Linked DNA regions of Homo sapiens: regions 1 and 3 are each linked to region 2. The links come from fine-mapping of genetic effects on gene expression. Tissue or cell type: whole blood. Region 2 holds a variant in brackets; each other region holds the start of a gene. All regions are shown on one strand. Distances are from middle to middle.

What was found. PIP is the estimated chance that this variant, and not a neighbour inherited with it, causes the effect.
Region 1: it holds the start of C1GALT1, and the variant in region 2 is fine-mapped to the expression of C1GALT1 in whole blood (INTERVAL, PIP 0.97).
Region 3: LINC03016 starts here. The variant in region 2 is fine-mapped to the expression of LINC03016 in whole blood (TOPMed, PIP 0.91).

Annotation. Positions count from the first base shown.
Region 1 is chr7:7,179,258-7,186,495 of GRCh38, reverse strand. C1GALT1 (core 1 synthase, glycoprotein-N-acetylgalactosamine 3-beta-galactosyltransferase 1) reads right to left here and starts at 3,952. Exons shown (of 4, transcript NM_020156.5): 1 at 3,676-3,952. RefSeq lists silencers at 3,163-3,382, 3,603-4,212.
Region 2 is chr7:7,220,418-7,227,655 of GRCh38, reverse strand. The region is part of intron 1 of C1GALT1 (core 1 synthase, glycoprotein-N-acetylgalactosamine 3-beta-galactosyltransferase 1); the gene reads right to left. Among named protein-coding and RNA genes, the nearest start is that of LINC03016, 31 kb to the left of the region's middle. The variant G/C (reference allele first, on the strand shown) is at 4,248.
Region 3 is chr7:7,251,800-7,259,037 of GRCh38, reverse strand. LINC03016 (long intergenic non-protein coding RNA 3016) reads right to left here and starts at 3,884. Exons shown (of 4, transcript NR_108073.1): 1 at 3,860-3,884.

The sequences.
Region 1 (7,238 bases), 41 kb after region 2:
CTGGGATGGAGCCTGAAAATTTCAATTTCTAACAACTTCCCAGGTGATGATGATGCTGCAGATCCAGGGACCACATTTTTAGAACCCGTGTTTCAGAATGTAAGCTCCATGAGGACAGAGATTTTTGCCTATCCACTGTTTTATCTCCAGGACCTGGCACATAGTAAGCACTTGCTGTGGTCTGAATGTTTGTCTCCTCCAAAACTCATGTTGAACCTTAATCACCACTGTGGCAGTATTGAGAGCTGGAGTCTTTAAATGGTGACTGGGTACTAAGGGTTCAGCCCTCATGAATGGGTTATCATGGGAAAGGAACTGGTAGCTTTACAAGAAAGAAAGAAAGAAAGAAAGAGTTCTGGGCTAGCATGCTCGGCCCCCTCACCATGTGGTGCCCTGTGCTATCCTCAGGACTCTGCAGAGTCCCTACCAGCAAATGCCCTCACCAGATGTGGCCCCCTGAACCAGGACTTTTCAGCCTTCCTAACTGTAAGGAATAAATTTCTTTTCTTTATAGATTATCCAGTTTCAGATATTCTGCTAGAGGCAACAGAAAACAGATTAAGACATCACTGATATATGTAAATAAATGTAAGTGTCCCATCCTGTTTCCACTATAGCCTCTGATTCAGTCTATAATGCTAAACATTTACTGAACGATGTAAAAGATAAACCGTGCAACTGTTACAGGTTAAACTGTGTCCCCACAAAAGATAGGTTGAAGTCCTAATTCCAGTACCTCTGCACGTGACCTTATTTCAAAATAGGGTCTTTGCAGATGTAATCAAGTTAAGATGAGGTGATTAGGGTGGATCTTAATCCAATACGACTAGTATCCTTGCAAGAAGTGGAGCACACCATCTGAAGACAGAGCCACACAGGGATTATGTTGTGATAACAGAGTCACAGACTGGAGTGACATAGCTGCAAGCCAAAAAATGCTAAGGATTGGCAGTAACACAACAAGCTAAGAGGCATGGAACAGATTCTCCCCTCGAACCTTGAGAGAGCATGGCCATACCTACATCTTGATTTCAGACATCTTGCCTCCAGAACTGAGACAATAAATCTGTTGTTTTAAATCACCCAGTTTGTCGTATTTTGTTACCGCAGCCCTAGAAAATACAATGACCAAGAATGCAAATAACTATGCCAAGCTGTATTTAATTTCAAATTCTGCCTATTATCCAACATCTAGCCGTTTAAATGTGCTTTAATATACAGGTTTCCCATTCCAGAATCTCCCTAATATTGCCTCTCGTTGCCCCCAACACGCCCCTTCAATGTGCAAGGCAGCACATACTACAGGTGCTAGATAATTTATTTAGACTTTCCTTTCAGTTTCCCCCACCTTCTTATGTGCTTCCCTAAATCACAAACACCAGTTTCTTTATATATTTTTTTTCTCCCTCTTCCTATTCTCACATATTACAGATTTTGGCATATATATTCCCCTTGGACATTTGAATTAGCTGCAAAATAATTTAAGTACACATTGGAGTTCCTCTCTAACCAGATTTTAAGATAAAAGGCTAACTTCTCATTTTATGGAACAAGTCTCCTTCCCGCTCCCCACCTTTCTTCTTTTAAAAGAATGACTTAATCCCACTGAATTTGAAGTAAAAAGATTTTTGTCATACCTTTCTTTCAGCCTTGCTATAGTTTGTACATCAGCGTCTTTAATCAAATCTTAAGAAATCTTCTAAAAGAAAAGATGGTTGTATTGGGAAGCTTAAACTTTTAAGCCTATCTGAATTTAATTTCAGCATCAAGCTTTCCATTTTCTACTTAAGGTTTATTTATAGCTGCACTGTCACAAAAATTCCAATCAATGATTTTACCACACAAAGACTCTAAATTACCATGGCTTATAATGTTAAACTGCATAATGCAATTTTAATTTTAGCACAAATCAATACACAAATAGTAGCATGTGCCTAGTGACATACTTTTTCATATTTCTATTAGGTAAACAAGAACTCATTATGTGTACCCTGAAATAAATTTGTGATACAATTTTAAGAATAACTGGATATTGAATTTACTCAACGTAGTCTAGTCTTAAAAAGCATAATTATGAAAAACTTTAAATAGGAAACACAAAATATTTCTAAAATGCTTAATCCTAAGTAGGAAGATACAAAAAAATACACATTCCAGGCAAATTTGAGAGGCATTTAGTAGCTCTCCACTAATACTGAAAAATTATTCTCTTTATGAAGAATTTTAAATGAGTCATACTTTCCTTACTAAGTCATTGTTTCACTTACCATAAGGTGAAGAGTTAACTGTTTGCTAACTTGAAACTTTATATTCACTTAAACTGTACATCTATATATAAAGACTGGTAGAAAGTATAGTGTACTATATACAATATTTAGAACATACAGCATCATGGGCATTAAGCTCAACTGCCATTTACCTAAGAGGGTGAAAAGCTGTCATCTAAATACCTTCTAAAAACTCGGATTCCAACTTCCCAAACTCACACCAGAATGAAGCAACTTGAAATTATGCGCACTTTTTCCTGGCAGAGCTATGTTCTATGCCCAACTTTTAGTAAGTTAACATATTTCTCTCCCTTACACATCGGCCAATTATTCATTGATTCATTATGGTTCTAAATTTATAACTTTTAAATTCATAATGAAATCAATCCATGGTTAGCACAATAGTTTTCTATCTTAAAAAAGCGTTAAAAGGAAATACAGTAGTATGTACAATGGATATAGAGAACTAGGTTAGAAATCTTGAGAATTTTTCCAGGATGTGTGGGTTTTTTGTTGCTGATACTGTTGTTTGCTTTAAATGCGGGGTGGTGGGGGGTGGGGAGACGGTAAGGACCAGGAAAGAATAAATCCACAGCGCTAAATTATGGTCATCTTTTAAGAGTGTACGACTTACCCAAATTCAAAGCAAATGGACAACTTGTCAACACCTACTAATTCCATCACAATTTGTTGGGGAAAAATGGGGTGCAGAAGCAAAAAAAAAAAATTTAATGCCTTTCTTCCTCCTCCATGCCCCGAATGCCCCAACACACACGTATCTGCTTCACTCTGCGGCAGGGAAACTTAAAGAAATAAATCAGCTACAGACAAACCTGATGATCCAAGCTAGACCCAAGCAAGCTCCAGGCACCTCTGGAAGGAGCCCGCTCGCTGGGCGCTCAGGCGGCGCGGCAGCCGAGTGGCTCCCCGGCGAAGGTGCCCAACACCTGGGCGCCCAGTCCGGCGGGACCCACAGGTCTGCGGCGGGGCGGGGAGGGCCCGGGAGGAGGGACTGGGAGGGCCCGGCGGGGCAGGACCGCTAAGTGGTCCGGTCCGGGCGCACTGCGCGCCCCGCCGCGCCGCCAGGCAGCGCGCGAGCAGAAGAGGGGCGCGAGCGGGCACAAGGGAAGGACCCACGACGAAGAGGAGGGTACATGTCCACAAAATTGAGGCCGGGTACGCAGCCGAACGCTGTGGCAGATCGCTAAGGCTCCGGGAGCGGGAAGTCCTCGCGCCTTCCTCAGGAGCCCGGACGACCCCAGCCCGGCTTTGACCCCGAGACACCTGTTCCGCCGCGCCCGGGGTTTGGTTCCATCCTCCACGCTTCCCCACCAACCCGGAGAGGGGGGAGGGCGAGGGGAGACGAGACCTTGGACCCGTAGCCTGAGGGCGCCTCCGCCGGCCATACCTGACATCAGCTGCGGCTCCCTCTCGCCCCTCCTGGGGGGCGGAGAGGGGGACGACTTGGGACTGGTGACCTTTGCTTCTCTGGGCAGCCGCAGAAGTGGCTCGTGGCCGCTAGCCGAGGCCGCCCGCTGCCGCCCAGATTATTCCCCGGCAGCGGCAGCACAGCGGCGGCGGCCAAGGCGGGCCCAGCGCGCGCTCCCGCCCGCTCGCTCCGCCCCTCCCCGCAGCGCGTCCAGGCCGTGGCCCGCCTATGGCGCAGCCGCCACCCGAAGTCTCCTGGCGCTGACGTCTCCGCCGCCGCACCAGCCCCAGGGAAGGGCGGAGCGGGAGGGGCGGTGGGCGGGGATACGGCGACGTGAGGAAGCGGGGATTGGCTGCCGGGTGCACGCTCCGCCCTAATGCGAAGGGGTCTGGGAAGTCGGATCTTGCACGAGCAGTAGATTTTGTTGTATCCCCCTTGCGGCTTGTGTCTGCTACTCTCCGCATTTCTGATCCTGCTGTAAGGTTATGCACTAGCTTCAAGACCTTGAGCGGGACGAAAGCAGGGTAACAATAGGGAGCGAGAAAGGGGATGCTTGAAGGACCTTTGTCTGAGGTACAGGCTCTAACCCTGCAGGACTCTTGTGGCCTGTAGCCTGCTCTTAACCCGTTCATTTGTTTTTCTGTTCTCTCCCCGTGCTCTCTTTACTCAGTATCTCTCTGGGCTTAATAAAAGGAAGTAATAAGATGAAGTATGCATACGGGTGCTGGGTCATCATGTGAGAACCAGGAAGAGCTGAGAACCGAGATAATGATACCAGAAAGCTTTCTATAGGCACATTTCGTCTTTGGTTCTGTCAGCACTTCGGTTCTGTGGGGCAATGGCCGGAAGAGCTTCTTAGGGGCGTAACAAAACCTATCTCCCCTTTCGCTGGGCTCTGAATAAGGAAGTTGTCTTTGGAATAGGGGGAGGAGGCTGCCACCTGTTGAGGCAACCCCACAATAGTCATGAGGTGAGGGTAAGGTTTAGTCTTTACTGGCGTTAACCATTATCTACAAGACCACGTTCCAGAATAGGAAAGCTACCCTGCTTCCTTTAAATGCCCTATCCAAGCGGTTCTTTAGTACTCTACAGCATGGTTGTTAAAGAGTATGGGCTCTGAAATCAGACTGCCCGGGCTGGCATCTTGGTCCCTCCACCTATTGGCAAGTTACTTAGAATGCCTGAGACAAATAATAATATACATTAGTTATTGTTATTTTTCCTTTAATTTGCTTAGGTTCAGCTGTAGTGTAGTTTCTCAGGACATTGCATCAATATATCCAAAAGAATTGTGAAACATAAAGCACATGTAGTGATTCTAATACAGATGTCTCATTTTTCAGATGACAAAACTAAGGCCAGAAAGATAAACTGATAGGTCCATGTTAGAAGAGAAGTGCAGCTATCCTGATGTCCAGGTTATTGCTCTTTCCTTGGCTCATGGGTCCAGACTTCTCTGCCTTACATGATTACGTCCATTCTCTACTCCTCCCCAACTTGTATACAGTTGTTGCTCAGCCTCCTCCCCCTCCACCTTTCCGCAATATCCTTCCACCTTTCCGCAATATCCTTCCACCTTTCCGCAACATCCTTCCACCTTTCCGCAATGTCTTGCCATCCATTGTGAAACATGGAAGGAGAACTCTTTCAGGGGTCAGTGTTCCAAATAGAAACCAAAACTCACAACTCCTTATCTCGTTTTAATTTTATTAAAAGTTATAATTAATAAAGAATAACACTTTTTTCCATTGAGCAAAGATTAGAACCCTTTCCTAAAATAAGGTCAGCCACAGCCTTATCCTGGAAAATTACTTGCTAGAAACAATACTGGACCAAATCAGCCCTGCCCCCACCCTGCCTTTCTTTGAAAATAGCTTTTTTTTTTTTTTGAAGAGATATGGTCTTTCTATGTTGCCCAGGCTGGAATGCAGTGGCTATTCACAGGTGTGATCTTGGCACACAACAGCCTCGAATAACTGGGCTGAAGGCTGAAGCAATCTTCCCGCCTTAGCCTCCCCAGTAGTTGGGATTACAGGCACAGGCTGTGGCACCCAGCTAATAACTATTGTTTTATAAAAACAATACATGCTTATGCAAACAAATTTAAAAAATTTAAACAAAAATGCAAAGAAGTTAAAATCTGTCCAAATACCATAATATAGAGATAACCATTTCTTAAATTTTGTGTTACATTCTTCTAGGCATCTCTCTAAGAATAAAAGCACATATAGACATATAAATACAATATTTCATAAATTGGATCGTATTATCTGCACAGTGAACAACAGTCATGAATAACATCATTTTTAAAAGTTGCATACTGTCTGTTAAATGGATATACCATCATTTATCCAACCAGTATTCTATTGATTGACATTTATGTTTCCAAGTTTTTACTACCATAAAAAAAGTCTCTGATGAACATTCTTATCCATAGGCTTTTGCACAATTGTGCAATTATCTCCTTGAACACATTCCTAGAAGTGACATTAATGTCAGCCAATTCTTCGACATTTTCAATTAGAGAATAAAAATTGTGGTTACTTTGAAAAATATACTTTATATGTGGGACTCAAAACTGACCAGATTCTCCCATTTGAAACATACTTGAAACACACATAAACCTCAGTATTGTTGTTTCTCTTGTGTCTAGTGTTTAATAATGCATGTCAAAACTCGTTGGAGTAGGTCGGTAGACATTACTAGTTGTCTAAACCAAAATCCTTTCTTCTTTACTAGTAGAACTCTGATTTCTTCAGGGTGACAATGTGGCCAGTTAAAAATATTCATGCCCCTAGACTTTCATAAGTCATGGCTGGCCATGTGACCATCAATTAAATAAAAGTGAATTTCTGTAGAGGAGACTCAAGGAAAGCTTTATGGAAGAAATATCGCTTTAGCCATTTGATATGCACCCATCCCTTTTTTTTTTTTTTTTTTGAACCTGAAACAGGGACATGATACTGGAGGTAGAACAGCCATATTTCACCCATAATAACAAAAGCCACACAGACACTATTAATAGTGTAGGACACCAGAGGTGCCTAGGTCCATGGTTGCTTTGGAGGGCCAACTTACCAGGTCTGGACTATCCACTTCTGGATTTGTTGTTAGGTGAGGAAGATTATATCCCTTCTATATAAGATTTTGTTATTGTCTGTTGTAAGTATCAAATGCAATTCTTAGTTGACATAATAAGATAGGCCAAGTCATCATTTATTTAGCACTATATATAGAATTTTTTAATAGACAGAATGAGGTGAAAATGGTGACAGAAAATGCAAACAAGCTAGCAACAACATTAAAACATTGTCTTCTTTAATAGACTTAGTTTCCCTTTAAATACCTACATTTTACAAATATATTAACACCAGTTTATAATAATTAAGTTAAATTTCGTGTATTAAATTTTATTAACTCATATGGTAGTATTAAAATATGTTCACAAATTATTTGATACTTCTTCCTTCAAAGGGTCAAACTTCATTCCCCTCACCTTGAGTTTGGACTGTATTAAATGACTTGTTCTCATGAATAGAATG
Region 2 (7,238 bases):
CTCCGCCTCCCGGGTTCACGCCATTCTCCTGCCTCAGCCTCCCAAGTAGCTGGGACTACAGGCGCCCGCCACTACGCCCGGCTAATTTTTTGTGTTTTTAGTAGAGACGGGGTTTCACCGTTTTAGCCGGGATGGTCTCGATCTCCCGACCTCGTGATCCGCCCGCCTCGGCCTCCCAAAGTGCTGGGATTACAGGCGTGAGCCACCGCGCCCGGCCTTCCCTTTCTTTATAAAGCCAAAACAGTTCCCTTCCCATGATAACCCATTAAGTTATTAACCCATTAATGGATTAAACCATTCATGAGGGCAGAGGTCTGTCTCATAAACCAATCACTTCCTTAAAGGCCTTGTTAATATTGCCAAACTGGGAATTAAATTTCAACATGAGTTTTAGAGGGGACAAATATTCAAACCATAACCCTACAGTTTTACAGAATGGGAATTATATTAGTCATCTCGTTTTTAAAGAATTAACATATTAGATTTATTTGAATTTATAGGAAATAAAGGAATCTAAAAAATCTGAATGTCACCTAGACATCTGTAATATGACCCCCATCCTCTAAAGGATCCCTCTAAAAATTAAGAAAAGTTTACAAAAAAACAGAAAGGAGTTGGAGGGCTCATTAAATAAGCTCAATTTTAGGCACTATCTATTGATTTCTTGCTGTGAAATGTGGAAATCAGCATGGATACACACATGTACAAATATATATATACACATATACATACACACACACTCCCTCTGCCACAACCAATTTTTGTTAACTGCTTTTATTTGGTAAAAATGTACATAGTTTACATTATATGAATTATGAACTGTAATTCCATGACTGCTTAATCCTGGATCTACATTAAACTAGATTCCATGCTCAACAAGAGTCCTTTTTAATCACAACTCCTCTAAATTTGAGTTTTTCATTAATATCATGTTTTTGTTAGCTGGGTTTCAGCAAGCAGTTTTTTTTAATGGCGCTAATCGGTGCCACATCTGAAATTCTTGCAGGCTTCAGAATGTCTGCTATTGCACAAACTTTCTTCTCCCTAAGAACTTTGTAAATATTACTCCATGGTCTTCTTACATGGGTGCCAGAGAATTCTGAGGATACAGCCTTTAACCTCTTCTCTTATGCTTGGTTTTCAGCCACTCCACCAGTTCAAGAATATTCTTTCACCAAGATTTTAATGCCCTTTACCATGAGCGCACGTCTTCTTCCTTTCAGGCTTTCGGGAAGTCAGTGAGTGTAATTCACAATAAAGCCCTGAAATTCTAGTTATTTTTTTTTTTAAATTTTAACACTTTATACCACATTTTGCCAAGGTGACAATCAGGTACTTCTAATTTTGCTCTGGATTATGGCATTCATTTGCTGCATTTATGTATTCAAAATATATTCCCTCTTCTAACCATATTAAAATAATTTTTGATACATCTTTATATTTTCCCAAAAGATTTTCCTTATGAAAGTGATATAAATCTTACAGTCACACACCTTACATTTACAAATATAGTACATGTGAGGTACCATGTTAGAAATTTTTATGTTTTTTTCTGATGCTCACAGCAACCTGAAAACTCGATAGCAGTATCCCTTTCATATTACAGATGAAGAAACTGAGTATGAGACAGGTTAATTAAATGGACCCAAACCAGCCAGCCAACATGGTAAATTGGAATTTTCACCCCCATTTCATTTAAAGTTCACTAGTTTTTCCACACACCACTCTCGCACCTATAGCTGTCTATTAACTTTCCATATCCTTTCCCTTTCTCTCTAAAATTATCTTTAAATGGAATACTTAAAAGGTTATGTCATCAGTAGGTCCAACAAGAAACCGCTTTTGCTCTATTTATAAATCTTGAGGTGCAAATAAGATATTGAAAAGTCCACGGGCTCTAAGAATGGACTGGGAGGATGTTAATGTTTGCTGAGAGATTGGAACTGGTTTCAGACTAAATATTCATGCCTCTGCTCTTTAATTTTGCCATTAAAAAACTCAAATGTTTCTCTATATAAATTCTTAAACACAAAAAACACACTGCTAAAGACTTAACCCATACAGTGTTTTCCATATGCTTTTCAACAAACAAAAATAAATTTATTAAGTAGAATTTTACTTGCAATAAACCCTCTATAGTTTTCTTCTAATTTTAGGGAATATTTGTATTGTGTTTCTTCCAGTTCCTGGTTATAAGCAGATGTAAGCTGCCAAGCTGAGATCTAAGTTTTAAAGCTCAAAAATTATTTTCAAATACACAGCACTATGCTATATACTGGGAAAAGCAAAAAGCAAGTACCTTTCCCTGCTTTCCTGGAGTTTAGTTTTGCTAATGACACAGGGAAGTAAAAATAGCAAAGAAACAGTTTGGAAACAATAGAGCGGCACAGCAAAAGCAGTGCTAAGAGGAAAACTTATAGCACTAACTGTTTACATTAAAAAAGAGAGAAATAAATTGATTATTTAAGCTTCTACCTCAAGACTCAACAAAAAGAGCACAATAAACCCAAAGCAAGAAGGAATAAAATAATAAAGAGCAGAAATTAATAAAATTTAAAACAGGCATTATTTTAAGTGAACTAACACAGGACAGAAAACCTTATTAGTTCTCACTTGTAACTAAACACAGAGGACATATGGACACAAAGAAGGGAATAACAGACACCAGAAACTACCTAAGACTGGAGGGAGGGAAGAGGGTGAGGACTGAAAAACTATCTATTGGTTAAATACACTATGCTTAATACACTTAAATACGCTTAATACACTTAAATACACTTAATACACTTAAATACACTATGCTTAAATACACCAAACCCCCATGACACACAATTCACCTCTGTAACAAACCTGTATATGTACCCCTGAACCTAAAATGTAAAAAAAAGAGCTGGTTCTTTGATAAGATTAATAAAATGGACAGCCTCTAAAGATTGAGACACAAACTACCAATAGCAGGAATAATACAGGGGTTATTTCTATTGACCCTGCAGATACCAAAGGATAATAAGGGAATACTACAAACAACTCTACACGTATAAATTTGACAAGTTAGATGAAATGGACCAATTCCTTGAAAAGCATAAACCATCACAATTCACTCAATATGAAATAGATTATTTGAACAGCCATATAATTATTTATAGAAACTGAACTCACAATTTTAAAACTCCCCTCACCCCCCGCCCCTGACCCCCACAAAAATCTCCAGGTCCAGATGGTTTTACTGGAGAATTCTAACAGATGTTCTAAAAATTATTTTTTAATGTTTTAACATCAATTTGTACAATCTCCTCCAAAAAGTAGGAGAGAACACTTCCCAATTCATTTTATCAAGTTCATATTACCCTGATACCAAAATCCAACAAAGACAGTACAAAAAAAAAACCAAAAAAAACTACAGACTACTACCCTTCTCAGAAATACAGAAACAAAAATACTTAAAAGTATGAATTAGCATGTTAAGTACTAATACTTAATGAAGTATTAGTATTTCACAAAGTATTAGTAAATAGAATTCAGCATTATGTAAAAAGAATTATGACCAAGTAGAGTTTATTCTGAGTATGTAAGGATGGTTCAACATTTAAAAATCAACACGATTCATCCTATTAACCAACTAAAAAGGAAAATTCACACAAATGAAAAGATGCAGAAAAAATACTTGACAAAATCCAATATTCAGGACAAATAACTCTCAGAAAAACAAAAACAGAAGGAATTTCCTTAACTTGATAAAGAACAAGTATCAAAAACTAACAGCTAATGGTACACTTAATGGTAAAAGACTGAATGTTTTCACGTTAAGATCATGAACAAGGAAAGGATGTCCACTCTCATCACTCTTACTCAATATAGTACTGGAAATTCTAGCCAGTATAATAAAGGAGAAAAATAAAAAAGAGAATGAAAAGGCATATAGATTGTAATGGAAAAAATGAAACCATCCCTATTTGCAGATTTGTAGATAATGTGACTGTGAAGGAAATCTCAAGGATTTTGTGAAAAGAAAAATGCTACAAAGAGTAAATTCAGCAAGGTCACAGGATATAAGATACACATGCCAAAATAATAAAAAACAAACAAAAACAAAAACGAAACCCATAAAACTCACAAATGGAGAAATCATACAATGAAAGGCTTGGCAAAAGACATGCAATCTCTTCCCATATAAAACTAAAGAACCTGTGTGTGGCCAGGCACTGTGGTTCACACCTGTAATCCTAGCACTTTCGGAGGCTGAGGTG[G/C]GAGAATCTCTTGAGGTCAGGAGTTCCAAACCAGACTGGCCAACATGGAGAAACCCCATCTCTACTAAAAATATTTTTAAAAATTAGCTGGGCTTGATGGCAGGTGCCTGTGATCCCAGCTACTGGGGAGGTTGAAGCAGGAGAATTGCTTGAACCTGGGAGGCAGAGGTTGCAGTGAGCCAAGATCGCGCCACTGTACTCCAGCCTGGGTGACAGAGCAAGACTCCATCTCCAAAAAAAGAAAAACCTGTCTGTGATAATTATGCAACAAAGCAGAAATGTTATTATCCCAGAAAGAAAAACTCCATAAAATAAAATGATATTAATTTATGTTATGGTTAGGCAAAAATGGCATTATGGTGCCAACTGAAATGGAGAGGGGGATAGGAGAGAATGTGCTTGTAAGAAGTATGTGTTCTAATTTCATCACGTAAGTAACTCAGTTGACTTTTTTTTAAAAAAAGCTTAACTACAAAAATCTTCACACAAGCATAAAACCAAAAAAAAACTCACATACCTGTCATACAGATTGAATTATAATACAAAATTTGGCATATTTACTTTATTCTTTCTTCAAATGATTATAGTATTTTAATGCAAATCTTAGACATAAAGTCATCTCATTTCTACATACTTCTGTATACCTGTCCGAAAATATCAACATTTTCTTAAAAACTATAACGCCATTACTAAATGCCTAACAAAATAGCAATAATTATTTGGAATCATCTAACCCACAGTCTGTAATCAAATTTCCACAACTGTCTTCTGTAATCAAACTGTCTCAATTAGCACAAAAATGTCTTTTCGCAGTTGGTTTGTTCAAATCAGAATTCAAATAGTATTCATGTTCACAGAAAAAATGAAAAAATAACACTTTGTATAATAGCTATTAAACATAAAAACCTCAATGAAACACACATTTCTATTTAAAAGAAAGCTAATTATCAAATCTGACTCAAGATACACAACCTAATAGACAACCATAGAAAAAATAAAATGTTGTCAAAGAGCCAGACTTCAAAAAGGTCCAGACTTTCCTGGACGAAGTCTCTCAATCTTTAAAAAAATAATTTTTGGACTACATAAATCATTCCAGAAAATTAAGGAGCAGAAATTAACCAATTATTCTTTAATATAAAAGTTTGATGACATTATCTGACAAACAGAACCCAAAGAACAGCATAGAAAACTTCAGTCTGATTTCACTCCAATTAAAGAGAATGCTGAGCAATTAGTAGTAGTTATCGTTAAGTTGGGTCTTTTGGCAGTAAGCTCTAAGATGAGGTGCTTGTGTCAAAGTGATTTATTAGAAAGTATTCTATGGAAAACCTTGTAGGGAAACAGGACAGGAAGGGAAGGAAGCTAAGCAAGGGTAAGACACCAAGGAAGGTCCCATAGAGGGTAATTTTAGCTCAGTCCCTCAGGGTAGTTCTGGTGTTAACGTAGGTCACACCTCAGAGTTTACTCATATCATTAGTCATTGGTTAAGGGCTGTCTTCAGGAAGCAAATTTTCCAGACACTTCCACGGCATGTACATTGGCAAAACAGGCTCTGGCATGGTGAGGGTGGCCTTGCAACAAGCCTTAGGAGCTAGATGTTGAGAATCAACAGACACTAGGAGTCTGACAGCAGGAAGGAAACACAGGCCTATGGAGAGAGCACTGGCATCATCTGCTACAGTTTAAGTTTTGGATACAGAAAGTTAAAAACCACTTTGTTTGGATTTGCATTATGGAATTCCTAAGAGGTTGAGCAATATATCACTCCAGTGGGATCATCCTACAGTTAAAAACCACTGGTGATTAGTCCCAACAACTTGTACAGACATTTCAATTCGCTTTTTATTAGCTAGTCTAAATTACCAACACCAGTTATCAATCACCAGACATTTTAAGGAATGGCTCTGATAAGAAAGAAAAAGACAAACAGTCACATTTAAATGAATTTGGTAGAGATTATGCAATGAGATGAAAACTTAAAAACAAACAACATACCACCATTAATATCTTGAGAGAGAAAAGATACCATGCCATTGCATTCATGAAGAACAAGGTATCAGTTTTTAAAAATCAGAAGACAAAAGACTCCTAAAAATTAAAATGTAAGAAAATTGAAAACCTCAAATAGAACAGCTGTAAATCAGATAAAGAAATCTCCCTGAAAGTAAGCAAAGTTAAAAGACAAGAAAGACGAGGTGATGGAAAATAAGAAAAAAAACTGTGAAAACTAAAGATCACTTTAGAGGTCCAGATAAAAGAGAAGAGGAAATCATTAACTCAATATTTCAAAGACATTTTCATTTTCACACTGAAAGGATCCAATGATACCCAGCACAGTAAATAAAAACAGACCCATAAAGACATATCATGAAACCTCAGGACGCGTGGGTCAAAGCCATCCTGCAAACTTTCAGAGAGAGGAACAAAAGGTCACATACAAGAGACCAGAAAGTAAGTGGTTCTGGACTTGCACAACATTGAAAGCTAAAAAGCAGTGGAGAAAATCCTTTGAAATTCTGAGGAAAAATAATTTTCAACCTAGAATTTTATACTCAAACTATGCAACAAGTGTGAGGGAAGAATAAAGATACTTTTGGGCTGGGCGCACCTGTAATCCCAGCACTTTGGGAGGCCGAGGCCAGCAGATCACAAGGTCAAGAGATCAAGACCATCCTGGCCAACATGGTGAAACCCCATCTCTACTAAAAATACAAAAATCAGCTGGGCGTGGTGGCACATGCCTGTAGTCCCAGCTATTTGGGAGGCTGAGGCAGAAGAATCTCTTGAACCCAGGAGGTGGAGCTTGGTTGCAGTGAGCCGAGATCACACCACTGCACTCCAGCCTGGCGACAGAGTGAGACTCCGTCTCAAAAAAAAAAGAATAAAGATACTTTAAAGACATGACAGATTTTGTTTAGATCAATGCTCAGCATATACCATATTTTAAAGCACCAGTAGGACACTGATGTAGAAATGTTGAGCAAGCTG
Region 3 (7,238 bases), 31 kb before region 2:
TGATCTCATTGATGCCATCAACTGTGCTTCTGGGTAAAGTCGCTGGTTCACATTTTCAGTTTCAATTTCCCTTGCTTCTCTTGCTTCAGTTTCAGTAGCAACAGGAAGTTTGGGTAATTCTATATCATTTAAATGTGAAGAGGAAGAAAGAAAACCCTTTATAAACACATCCTGATGAGTGAGTGTCAGAAAATTCTATGCAGAGACGTGGAGTAATCAAAGAGCAAATTCAGAAAATATTCTCTAAGTTTAGGATTTGTAGACTACTGAATTATAAATTTATACTGATTAATACATAGCAAAGGTTACATTAATATATTAAATCATGAATTTATATTATCTTGAGGTGATTGACCCTATGAGGTCACTTATAAATTGATTTTATGAGCACATAACACTTTATCTCTTTCCACCCTCTAAGTCTGTATATTATTAAAATACAGAAGACTAGACTTGATGTGTTTCAAAACTTCAGGCGCAGGTTAAGTTCCACCACTCAGTTCTGCTTCACTTGTTCTCACTCTGAGTCACTCAACCTCTGAACACGTTTTTCATTTGGTCAACTTATTTGAGCATTTGTCCAAGTAGCCTGAGTGGGTCTAAGTATAAGACATGAAATAAAGAGCTTGACATGGCAGAGACTGTCAGACTTTCAGAGAGAAAAAACAGTTTACTTAAGAATCTCAGAAATAGCTGGTCATGTCTAAGTTAGGGTCCCTAAGAAAATACAGGTGATTTCACTTTGTATTTCCCCCATTCCTTTCCCCCTTCCATTTCCGAAATTTGGTATTTTGAAAAGGATGAAGATCGATTTGGAAGTAGCTTACTTTAAAAAGGAACATAGTAACAGGAAATTGTAAAGTAACATTCTGTTAGGTTTCAAGGCTGATTTGTGTTAACAAGCTGACCACAGCCCTAAGACATGCTTGAAACCCTTAGTGCAGGGAGACAAAATAGGAACAGGGCTGAGCCTGATGCGGCCTCATTTGGGTTTGGTTGTTGCTGCCCCACTTGTAAAAACAATACAGACTGCGAAATAGACAGTCGTCCCTCAGTATCCTTGGGGTACTGGTTCCAGGACCCCCTCTGATACCAAAACCCATGGATGTTTAAATCTCTTATATAAAATGGTATAGTATTTGCATATAACCTATGCTTATCCTCTTGCATACTTTAAATCATCTCTATAATACCTAATACGAATGCTATGGAAATAACAGTTATACTGTATTGTTTATATTTTTGTCATATTATTTTTTATTGAATATTTTTGATCCACGATTGGCTGAATTCATGGATGTGGAACCCACAGATATGAAGGGCCTGATTGTACTAACTGATACCAGATCATTAGGCAATTCTCTTACTGGGGCTGCAGATCCAAAATCCAGACCACGTTTCTCTGAGTAAAGGTGTAATTTCCTCTGAAAAGACTAAATGTTTTCACTGCCAGTTTCCCAGGGGAGAGGTTGGTTCAGCAGGAATTTTGGGAGGAGGGTGTCCAGAGTGTTAGGTGAGTGGAAACCTTCCTCATTTCTTTTAGTGCAGATGTCAATTTGGCTCCAATTCTAAAGAAGTGCTGATAACTGAAGGTTTCTAGTGGGGTAGCTGAACTACCTTTGGTGACCTGGAAACAGGTAGCAAAGAGGGCAGAGCAGTAGCCTGGTAAGGGTGGAGAGGATTCCACTGGAGCTTGGCCGCTCTCATAAAGTACTATCTGGACCCTTTCTTTCATTATTCTGGAACGGTCAGGAAAGTCTGGTCTCTACTGTGGGCAACAAAGAGGAAAATAAGTCTTTTCCCCAGGGTCAAACAAGATGACAGAAGTCACCAGCAGAAGATGGTAGTGCCCACTGAAGCAGCAAGTTAACTGGAGTCACTGTCCCTAGGAGGCAGCCCAGGAATGGGCAAGAGGGCAACCCATTTCTGGGTACACATTACACTGTACCCTGGGAACCGCTGAGGATCACGAGGGGCATATTTTAAGGGTGGCTATTTCTGCCAGTAATGCTGGAAAGCATTCATGGCATAATGCCATGATATGTAGCAGAATCCACCACAGTGTCTGTACGAAATGTTTAAGTAGGTAATTCATTCTGTCAGTTATTAAGTGTTATGAATCTGAAATCATTAAAACAATGTACTGCACAAGAAATAGGCAGATAAGCAGACCAGAATACAGTTTATACACAAACCGATAATGAAATATCATGGGGTAATGGTGATTTAAAATAAATGTTGAAAGAAAGGATCGTCAAATAAAGTGTATTACAACAAACGGGTAGCCATTTTCCTACCTCACTCCATATAAGAAAATAAATTCTGGAGGGATCAAAAATATAAACACAAAAAATGAAACTATGAAAGTAAGAGGAAAACATAAGCATATTATAAATAAACCTTGGTGTGAGCAAGACACACAATTCAATAGCCCTAAGAAAAGATTAATTGGTTTGTGTGGGGAAAAAACAAGTACGAAATAATCATAACAGTTCTAATACATATAAATAAACCAATATTCAGAGAGTTTATAAAAATTTTTAAAAACCCTAGTAATTCAATATTAAAAACTGGCGAAGATGAAATGCAAATTACCAATGTATAAAAAAAACTCAAACCTTAAGTACAAATCAACAATTATCAGATATTAATGCAGTGATAAAACTAGTAAGTTCAATAATCAAAAACTTTGGTAAAAGGGGCAGGAAAATATACTCGCAAATGTTGAGTAGTAGTATAAGGTAGTACAGTACAGTTTAAGAAGGCAATTTGGCAGTATCTATGAATATTTAAATGCATACATTCTTTATCTCAGCAATTACTTGCTAGGAACTTATCCTATGGCTGTACCCACACAATCATTTCAAGGATGTTCAGTGCAGCAATAATTATAATAAAAGTATCCAACTCAATTATCAATAGAGGAATGGCTTAAAAATTGTGGCACATCCATACAGAGATCTAGTTAACTATTAAAAAGAATTATCTCTAAGTTATTAAACAGTAAGCAGAAAAGGCAAGGAGCAGAATGATGTGTTTAGTTTGGAAATGAGTACAGTTCTGTTATTTTCTGTTTATGGCTGGACAAAGGGACTGCTGGGTGGGGCTGTAGCAGATTATAGCTTTTCATTTTATATTCATTCTCTTTTACCAAGCACATACATTACCTTTGTATAAAAACTTAAAAATATTTTTAACAGGAAAGACATTATCCTCAAACCATGCAGTAATGCCCAACTTGAATATATTTATTCAAGATCTAAGGAAGGAAATTTCAGGGGTACTGGAGTTATTGAAAAATAAACCTAAAAACATGCCAATGAAAGAAAATGGCTGTGGGTCTCAGAAAAAAATGGTACACTGACTGCACCTGGGAAAAAACTGGAACTCTCGAAGAATTGAAGTTAACTGGGCTTTGGCAAATTTGTGAATATATCGACTCTTTCACATGAAGTTGTACCTGAGCCTTATTCTTTAAATCCAGTTCAAATGCCACAATTTCTTTGAAACTTCTCAGATCCCTAAACACTTAATATACAGTCCTCTTATAGTTCTTTGTAAATACCTCTATCATAGTCCTGAGGAGGCTATTTGTTCACTGGCATGTCAGCCCCCAACCCAAATGTGAGATCCTTCAGGCAAGCCTTAACCACAGGTTTCGCCCTCCTTTCTCTTCTATAGCTGACAAACCATGAGCCTGGTGAAAGTTTGTTGAATGGGTGATTTAATGACTGGAGGAAAAAAAAGAGCTGTTGCTTTTTTTGGATTTTAGGATAGAAAACTTGTAACTTGACATGTAAATTAATTATTAACTAACTCGACACAGTTTTCTCCTTACCAGTGTTAGGCACGACCCTACCTTTGTTTTGTCATCAGAGATCACTTGTTGCTTCAGTAACCAAGAGCACTGAGCTACACCAAGTGACAGTGCTTTGGAATGTCTAATGGTCACTGTAGAGAAAAGGAACCTGAGCTCTCCTCCCTAATAGCAAATACACACAATCTTCTGCCCACACTTGAGGTTTTGTTCTTTTTCTGGACTGTATTCTCCAACGTAAATGCGAGGTTTTTTGCCTGATGGTGTATGATACGTGGAGTTCAAATCAAGATTTTCTCAAGCAGAAAACCTGTTTAGGAGTCCCTCCATATCTATGAGAAAAGCATTTTGTTTAGAGGTCTCCATAAAAATGAAACAGAAGAAAGTAGGGGGCATATGGAGAACTTTTCTTCATAGTGAAAGGATGCTCACCATTTACTTCCTTTTAATTGATATATAATGTACATATTTATGGGGGAGAGAGTAATATTTTGATACATACAATGTATAGTAATCGTATAGTAACCTTTTTAAACTTTTTTGTTGTGGAGATGGAGTCTTGTTGCCCAGGGTGGACTTGAACTCCTGAGCTTCAGCCTTCTGGGTAGCTAGGACAACAGGCATGCAGCACTACACATGGCTTTGTTATTTAAAAAAAAAAATCCTATTATGTCCCAGGCACAATTGGAAACAAGACAGATTTGATCTCTGATAACAGTGCCTGGCAACTATTAGGATCGTTCCTAGAATCTATTTGCAAATGGTGGGAAAAGGCAGGGACCAAATATGTGAGTTCTATCTAGCAGTACAATGGGTCAAAGAAAAACAGAAAGAATGAATAAGATCTAGTATTTGATAGCACAATAGGGTGACTATAGTCAATAATTTAATTGTGTATTTAAAAATAACTAAAAGAGTATAATTGGATTGTTTGTAACACAAAGGATAAATATTTGAGGGGATGGATACTCCATTTTCTATGATGTGATTATTACTTGTTGCATGGCTGTATCAAAGTGTCTCATGAACCCTATAAATACGTACACCTACTATGTACCCACAAAAAATTTTGTTAAAGTACATAGCTCAGGTTGTTCAGGGAAGATAAGAAATTGCATTTAGTACAAAGACCACTAACCTGGGAGTCAGGAAAATTGAGTTCTGTTGCCACTTCTGGCATTATTTGTGTCATTTTTCTAAACTTTAACATCTCTAGATCTGTTTCTGAATCTTTCAAACGAGGCGTTAGAACATCTTTAAGCTCTAGAAATCAGTAGTCCTATATTTTTATGTGGGAAAGGGCTCAGTGTCTTCTATTTCCATGAATAAGAGAATAAGACTTAAGCCAGAACAGATCTAAGAAAGATATGAAAATAATCTGACACAAGGATTTGAGAATAAATAGTAACTTCCGAGTACTCTTCACCCTTGGAGTAGAAGGAGAGAAGGATGCTAAGACGGGTCCACATGAGGCTGCTGGTCCTTTGTATGGGTCAACTATTTACCACTCTTGAAGATGGATACCTCCTTCATCTACCCTCATTATGAACTAGTTCAGCAGTCTTTATACCCTTGATTGAAGAAAGTAATTTCTTATGGCAAGATAAAAGAATCCAAATCAGCTTTGAGATCTTTCCAGCTCATGTGTGTACCTGCTTACCTCTACTGCTGCTTAAGAATGTCTGTGGACATTCTTCACCACTGGTTGTAAAAACCCTAGGGAGCCAGGGCCAACAGCTTTTTTTTCCCACTTTACTTCTCTAAACTGTGACAGTATAAACATGATTTTTTAAAAGTTCAAAAAGGAAAACAGTGAATTATTGAATTTCTTTCCAATCCTAGTACCCTTCCCCAAAGGTACTGCCAACAGTTTTTGTATATTCATACATTTATAAGTTAAATCATATTTTTCCTTATTTGACATCATATCTATGTTTGGTCTTAATTCTGTCATCTATTGTAAATTCTCCCTTTAGCTCTCTTATATGGCCTGTGTTATCTTTAATTTTGTGTTTTCATTTTAATAGTTATCAGGCTTACAGTTTTGGTGATTACCTTCATAACTATTCAGAATATTACATCCCTATTTCTTGATATATTATCAATTTTACAAAATTTCTATTCTGAAAAGTAAAACCAATTAGGGCATGTATATATTACCTCGTCTTTGATATTCTATTTTCTAACTTGTTAATCATCTTTTCTATATCAAGATTTATAACATTTCAATATGCTTCCATAGCCTTATTTAAATAATTCTATAGCTACATAGTTAAATAATTAACCACCACCAGTCCTGTTCTCAATGTTTGTCCATTTATCTCTTTAGATGGGCTTCATCATCTAGATTTTTCAAGAAGTGTCCACCCTCACTCTTTCAATTTACCCTTCCATTTGAAATCACTTGGCTTCTTCCTCCCCCAAGAATCTGGTAGAGTTTGCTTCACTCTGCTTTAGCACTGAATGTTGCTACAGAGAAGCCTAAGTCCAGTCCGTTCTTCCTCTCTCCATCTCCCCCTCCCAAAGAAATCACTCAATTTTGTTGCTGCTAAGATGACATTCCCCTCTCCCTGCCCCCAGGACAATTTGCAGATTTTGGCCACATCAAGAGCAACTGTATTTTTTTGAAATTATAATGTTAAAATTAGCATTTGTTACACGATCTCACTTTAATAAAACCATTTCTATCTATTTAGCTTCCTATCCAATTTATATTTATGCATTAATTGGAATTACTTTGGGGGGTGGTGGGGTTTGGGGTCCTTTAAAAATTTTCATCTTTGAAATGGTCATCTGCAATGAATGTTTAAGTTTTTTTTAAAATAATGGAGCTTATCACTTTTTCAATGGAAAGATGACTTATCTAGTAAAAGCTGGTAGTAAATACACAAGATACAATGATGCGTACTTTTTTGTACGTTTTGAAGAAAAACTAACACAAAAGAAAAATGTTAAATGTTTAAAAAGAGGAAACAATTTCTCAAACACCTCCTCTTGATTCTGACAACTTGGGTGGGTTAATGGGCTTATGTCATAGAAATGGCATTTTCCCCCCTCCATATCAGGACACTTCATAAACTTTAACAAGAAGAATAAGCCAGAAGTTTTCTTAGCAATATGAATTAAGAGTATAAAAGCCATTGAATGATGTGGATGGAAGTTTTTACATGGTTATGGCTGCATATGGAAATGAAATGATTTAAATTGGCCCCTTTCGAGAAGAGTCTCTTGCTTCACACACTCCATTCTTTCTTCTATGTAGCATCTGGTACTTTCAGTTCCCCTTTTGTGTAAAGTGCTGGAGGTTAACAAAATACAGTAGTTCCCCCTTAACCACGGGGGGATACATACCAAGATCCCCAGTAGAAGCCTGAAACAGTGGATAGTATAATCCATCCACCAGGATTGTAGTAAGAATTAC